Linked DNA regions of Homo sapiens. The protein of the gene in region 1 purifies or fractionates together with the protein of each later gene. This does not show direct contact. Each region holds a gene or a part of one and is shown in the gene's direction. Other genes may lie near its edges.

What was found. Proteins that work in one complex are often made in the same cells at the same time.
Region 2: the proteins of SLC10A4 (region 1) and KDELR3 purify together in Homo sapiens (affinity purification with mass spectrometry; one large-scale study listed by BioGRID and IntAct). This does not show direct contact.

The regions. Positions count from the first base shown.
Region 1 is NC_000004.12:48,486,343-48,490,026, forward strand, and holds the end of SLC10A4 (sodium/bile acid cotransporter 4), read left to right. Parts: intron 1-2,084; coding exon 2,085-2,597; 3' UTR 2,598-3,184; downstream 3,185-3,684. UniProt on the Homo sapiens protein: Transporter for bile acids.
Region 2 is NC_000022.11:38,474,596-38,478,095, forward strand, and holds part of KDELR3 (ER lumen protein-retaining receptor 3), read left to right. Parts: coding exon 1-28; intron 29-3,500.

The DNA.
Region 1 (3,684 bases):
ACTCATAGATACTCTTGAGATGCATTAAGAACTTGTTAATCTTAATCATTAAGCTAATGCTATTAATGTGATGGCATTTACTATAAAACCTTAGGAAGTCTAAGAGAAAGTCAATCAAATGACCTATTTACACACCCAAAACAAGAAATATATTTAAAATAAATATATTAATAAATTAATATATTTAATATTTAAATATAATAGACATAAGATTAGCTACCTTTGAATTTAAGGTTAACCTAGCCCTATTCTTTAATTAACACACTATTAAGAAACGGTTTATATAATTGTTACACCTTTGCAAACACTTCAAAATGAGCATTCAATGTCAATGCTTGCCCAAATGATTTAAAATAGTTCTAAGGGACTTTGGAGCCAATATTTCAAAATGAAGAAATCAGACTGTTTGTCAGCGCTTTCAATGTGACATACTTTGAAATGGTATGCTTTTACATGTAATAGCCTGGTTTCTGCCAATTATGCATCTGTAGTATCTGTACCTTATATAATAATTATTGCAGCATCCTCTAGGGTAGAATTTGTGACCAGCTCAGATAAATTTTAAATAATTTTTTAAGAGTGTAGAGTTACGCCATTCCCGAAGACTGCAAAAGGGATATCCCAGCTATCCAGGGAACCAGAAGCAACATTTAAGCTGTTCTCTCTGGCTCTAGTTTCCTTTCCCTGCCCACTCCTCATTAAAAAAAAATAAGTTAACTACCAATATGAAGGAGAACGAGGAGAGGAATTTTTAGATTTCCGCCTTACAATTCATACAGACTGTTTTATTTGAATGAGTGAAATGTACCAGTCAGAACATCAAGATGACACGTTTTATACAGAAGTCAGTTGTACTGTATCCGAAATCCATCTATTGTAATAATACGTAAGCATCATTACAGACTTATAGATGGGAGGTTTCTCATGAACAAATAAAAAAGGGGAAAGTTGCCAAATTGCAAAGAATTCTTCACATATTTATTTACATTTTTCTCTCTTACATAATCTAAGAGTAGGTAATTGTTTCAATATTGCAAGCAATCCTCTGCAGTATATTTTGAGGGTTAAAAAGATCACACACTGAGCTTCAGACATTTTAATCAAGTTTCACAAGTTTTAACTCATGTAAAATGAGAACTAATTTCTTATGGAAAACACGGGGTTCAGTTCAGGGAAAGTAAACATCCACTTGTCTGCTCTGATGATCAGACCATACCTGGGGTATTAGGTTCAGTTCTAAATGCCCTGTTTTTAAGAGGCACATTCACATATGAAACACATTCTCAGAACAGTCAGGATACCAAAACAAAGTTATGTGATGGAGGTTTAAGTTTGGGGATGATCTGCCTGAAGAAGAGTAGCCTTCCCCTGATAACCAGTTTTTAAGCTTTTGAAGAGCTGTTTTTCAGGAAAAAAGCTTTTGAAGGCTATTTTTTTTTGAAGAGCTTTTTTTTTTTTTTTTTTTTTTTTTTTTTTTGGTGAAATGGAGTGTTGCTCTGTCACCCAGGCTGGAGTGCAGTGGCGCGATCTCTGCTCACTGCAACCTCCACCTCCCAGGTTCAAGCAATTCTCTGCCTCAGCATCCCGAGTAGCTGGGATTACAGGCATTCACCATCACACCTGGCTAATTTTTGTATTTTTAGTAGAGACAGTGTTTCACCATCTTGGCCAGCCTGGTCTTCAACTCCTGACCTCATGATCCACCCACCTTAGCCTCCCAAAGTGCTGGGATTACAGGTGTGAGCCACCGCGCCTGGCCAGAAAAGCTGGGTTTTTTTGTTTGTTTTTTGTTTTTGAAGAGCTGGTCTCTGTCGCTCCTGAGAGCCTATATCCAACTCAATGGCTAGAGGTTATAGAAGGCAAATTGTCCCTGGACATAAGGACAGGCCTCCAAACAATCAGAGCTGCCCAATGTGGCTCTGGATGCTTCCTGAAGAGGTGGCCTGCCCATCTTCAGAAATATTCTGTCAAAGGTCTCCATTTTGTGTTGGAGAGCATACTAGATGGGTGTTTTCTTCCGTGAGCTTAGGATTCTCTCGCCTGAGTTCATCTTCAACCATCTCATTGTAATTTTCTATTACTAGGTTTCCCTGTGGTCTCTGCTAGTGACTCTGGTGGTCCTTTTCATAATGACCGGCACTATGTTAGGACCTGAACTGCTGGCAAGTATCCCTGCAGCTGTTTATGTGATAGCAATTTTTATGCCTTTGGCAGGCTACGCTTCAGGTTATGGTTTAGCTACTCTCTTCCATCTTCCACCCAACTGCAAGAGGACTGTATGTCTGGAAACAGGTAGTCAGAATGTGCAGCTCTGTACAGCCATTCTAAAACTGGCCTTTCCACCGCAATTCATAGGAAGCATGTACATGTTTCCTTTGCTGTATGCACTTTTCCAGTCTGCAGAAGCGGGGATTTTTGTTTTAATCTATAAAATGTATGGAAGTGAAATGTTGCACAAGCGAGATCCTCTAGATGAAGATGAAGATACAGATATTTCTTATAAAAAACTAAAAGAAGAGGAAATGGCAGACACTTCCTATGGCACAGTGAAAGCAGAAAATATAATAATGATGGAAACCGCTCAGACTTCTCTCTAAATGTGGAGATACACAGGAGCTTCTATCTTGCTGAAATATTGCTTCATATTTATAGCCTGTGGTAGTGCACATGGTTAACATAAAAGATAACACTGGTTCACATCATACATGTAACAATTCTGATCTTTTTAAGGTTCACTGGTGTATTAACCAAACGTTGTCACAAATTACAAATCAATGCTGTAATATAATTTGCACCTGGAATGGCTAACGTGAAGCCTGAATTAAATGTGGTTTTTAGTTTTTACCATCACCAATTTCTATGACTGTTGCAAATACAGAATCTATTAGAAAACAGGGTCTTGGAAATGTAGAATTTTGGCGCACTATGAGGAAAAACAAGCTATCTTTGTAAAGCATAATTGAGTTTAATGTAATTGTTGTAAAAAAAAAAGTGTGCTTGCTCTACTTAAAATTCCTCACAATGTTGAATTTTGACCTGTATTCAGAAGAATTCCAAAACAGGTCAGTTAAATAAGGAAATATAGTATTTGTCAAACCAGTATCAGAGAAAAGTTACATTAATGTATTTGATTACTTGATCTGGTATCTACTTATTAATGAATAATCAACATTTTTCTAGTGGACAAGCCATGTTCTTTTCGACTGGTCTTCTGCATTTATGTAAACACACCCCAAATCAATTTATCTTTTGTAGGAATGATTTGGTTGGGAAATTTTTCAGAACCGCTCTGGAGCAGAACAAAACGGTACCTCCCGGTCACCACTGGGACTGGGGGAAGGGACACGCTCCAGGGGAGAAAACAATTCGCCTAGATGAAGATCCCTGGGTGGTTCTCCATGCACTCGCCGAGGGGGCTCAGTGGGTAGCCTCTTAGAGCAGCTCTGAGAATAAACTTATCATCTGAGTTAACGGGTAATAGACCCAGAACAGTTCCCAAACCTTGGCACTTTCGCTCACTTAGCCAGAGGCACCCGGCCTGGCCTCGGCTTCCCGGTGAGGGAGCGGGGGTGGGGGGGATGCGCAGGCACCTGGAACAATCAGGGCACCGGGAGAAGCCGGCTCAGCTGATGCCGGTGATGAGTTTCTCTCATTGAAATCCTCCTCACCTCGGGCGCCTTGGTT
Region 2 (3,500 bases), on another chromosome or scaffold:
CATCTCCATCTACAACACAGTAATGAAGGTGAGGGGCTGGGTGATGATGGTTGGGGGAAGCCACCAAGCCCCCACAAACTGTGAGGTAGCCTGCTTGGAAACTCATTCTGTGGAGCCAGGCCGACCTGGGTTTGAATCCTGACTTTGCTGCTTAGTGGCTGCAAGACCTCATCTTGGGCCTCTTTGTATGTCAGTGTCCTCGTGCAAAAATGAGGACAGGGCTGGGCACTGTGGCTCATGCCTGTAATCCCAGCAATTTGGGAGGCCGAGTCGGGCGGATGGAGACCATCCTGGCTAACAAGGTGAAACCCTGTCTCTACTAAAAATACAAAAAATTAGCCGGGCGTGGTGGCTCATGCCTGCAGTCCCAGCTACTCAGGAGGCTGAGGCAGGAGAGTTGCTTGAACTTGGGAGGCGGAGGTTGCAGTGAGCCGAGATCGCGCCACTGCACTCCACCCTGGGTGACAGAGTGAGACTCTGTCTCAAAAAAAAAAAAAAAAAAAAAAAAAAGACAGTACCATTACTTAGCTCAGAGGGTTTGGTTGGGAACATTAAATGAGATAATAAATGTAAATGTAAAAAACCCTGCCATATATTAAACATTCAATAAAGGGTCACACCTGTAATCCCAGCACTTTGGGAGGCCAAGGCGAGAGGACCGCTTGAGCTCAGGAGTCTGAGACCAGCCTGGGCAATGCAGTGAGACTCCGCCTCTACATAAAATTTAAGAAATTTAGCTGGGCGTAGTGGTGCTCATCTGTGGTCCCAGCTACTCAGGAGGCTGAGGTGGGACAATCACCTGATCTTGGTAGATCAAGGCTGCAGTGAGCCATGATCATGCCACTGTACTCCAGTCTGGGCAACAGAGTGAGATCCCGTCTCAAGAAAAAAAAAATTATTTAGGTGATAGAGAAGGATTAGAGAGCTACTTCAGGGAGTGTGGTCAGGGCATCTTCAAAGAGATGACATGTAAGCTGACAGCTTAGTGACAACAAGGAACCAGCCATGTAAAGATCAAAGGACACACCTTCTTTCTGTTTTTTTAAGACGGAGTCTCACTGTTTTCTGTTGCCCAGGCTGGAGTGCAGCAGCGCAATCTCAGCTCACTGCAGCCTCCACCTCCTGGTTTCAAGCCGGGAGCTTGCCTTGTGCCTCAGCCTCCCAAGTAGCTGGGACTACAGGCATGTGCCACCATGTCCAGCTAATTTTTGTATTTTTAGGAGAGACAGGGTTTCTCCATGTTGGCCAGGCTGGTCTCACGCTCCTGACCTCAAGTGGTCCACCCACCTCGACCTCCCAAAGTGCTGGGATTATGGGTGTGAGCCACCATGCCCAGCCAAGATGTAGATTTTAGTTGGACACATTATCTAATAGGAATCTTATTTCTTGTGCAGTGGTGCGATCATGGCTCACTGCCTCAACTTCCCGGGCTGAAGGGGTCCTCCCACCTCAGACTCCTGAGTAGCTGGGACTACAGGCACGCACCACCATGCCTGGCTAATTTTTTTGTATTTTTAATAGAGACAAGATTTCACCATGTTGCCCAGGCTGGTCTCAAACCCCTGGGCTCAAGTGATCTGCCTGTGTCAGTCTCCCGAAGTTCTGGAATTACCATGATCAGCTAGGAGTCTTTTTTTTTTTTGAGACGGAGTCTCGCTCTGTCGCCCAGGCTGGAGTGCAGTGGGGCAATCTCGGCTCACTGCAAGCTCCGCCTCCCGGGTTCACGCCATTCTCCTGCCTCAGCCTCCCGAGTAGCTGGGACTACAGGCGCCTGCCACTGCGCCCAGCTAAGTTTTGTATTTTTAGTAGAGACAGGGTTTCACCTTATTAGCCAGGATGGTCTCGATCTCCTGACCTTGTTATCTGCCCGCCTCGGCCTCCCGAAGTGCTGGGATTACAGGTGTGAGCCATTGCGCCCGGCCAGGAGTCTTCTTTTTTGTTGTTGTTGAAATGGAGTCTTGCACTGTGGCTCAGGCTGGGGTGCAGTGGTGCAATCTCGGCTCACTGCAACCTCTGCCTCCTGGATTCAAGCAATTCTCCTACCTCAGCCTCCAGAGTAGCTGGGATTACAGGCACCCACCACCACGCCCGGCTACTTTTTGTATTTTTTGATAGAGACGGGGTTTCACTATGTTGGCCAGGCTGGTCTCAAACTCCTGACCTCGTGATCTGCCCACCTTGGCCCCCCAAAGTGTTGGAATTACAGGCGTGAGCCACCACACCTGGCCCCCCCTTTTTTTTTTTTTTTTGAGACAGAGTGGAGTGCAGTGGCACGATCTTGGCTCACTGCAGTCTCTGCTCCCGGGTTCAAGTTATTTATTTATTTATTGTTTAGACAGAATCTAGCTCTGTCGCCCAGGGTGGAGTGCAGTGGCGCGATCTCGGCTCATTGCAACCTCCACCTCCCAAGTTCAAGAGATTCTGCCTCAGCCTCCCGAGTAGCTGGGATTACAGATGTGTGCCACCATGCCTGGCTAACTTTTTTTTTTTTTTTTTTGTATTTTTAATAAAGACGGGGTTTCACCATGTTAGCCAGGATGGTCTCCTGACCTCGTGATCTGCCCACCTCGGCCTCCCAAAGTGTTGGGATTACAGGCATTAGCCACCATGCCCAGTCTTTTTTATTTTGAGACAGTCTCCCTCTGTTGCCCAGGCTGGAGTGCAGTGGTGTGATCTCGGCTCATTGCAACCTCCGCCTCCCAGGTTCAAGCGAATTCTCCTGCCTCAGCCTCCTGAGTAGCTGGGATTACAGGTGCACACCACCATGCCTGGCTAATTTTTGTATTTTTAGTAGAGACGGGGTTTCACTATGTTGGCCGGGCTGGTCTCGAACTCCTGACCTCGTGATCCACCCTCCTCGGCCTCCCAAAGTGCTGGGATTACAGGCGAGAGCCACCGTGCCTGGCCTAGGAATCTTATTTCTAAGGAACAAGGGTTCCATGGGGGAATTCTATCTTGCAGGGCTATTGAGAAGATCACATGAGATAACATACAGCACCTAGAAAATATTTAACTAAAGTGAGTTGTCCTTTTCTTCCATATCAGAGACATCCCTTTGGGATTTCAGGCATGTTGTTACTAGTTGGTAGAGTGGAGGTTGCTGTTACTTGTGAGGTGTTGAACTCATTCAGATTTAGTGAATGTGAATCTGAGGACTGGAAATCACCGTCTACTTAAGTTCACACATGTATCAAACATCACCTGCTAGTTCATTTCTCAGCCCAAGTCAGCCTTGGGCATTCCTGGCAGAGACAGCAGACTCAGCCCTTGCCATAGCTGAATGAGGTCTAGGAAGCTCAAAGAGGCTAGTTTCTACATTTATGAAATGAAAAAGTGACCACCTCATTCACTCATTCCAGCATTTGTTTTGTGCCAGGGACTGAGTTAGGAGCTGGGGATTAGGAGGTGGACCTTGCCACGGAGTCCTCTCTTAGAGGGGAGATGGACTTGTACCTAGACATTTACAGAGCATGTGATCACGGGCTAAAATGAGTATGTTC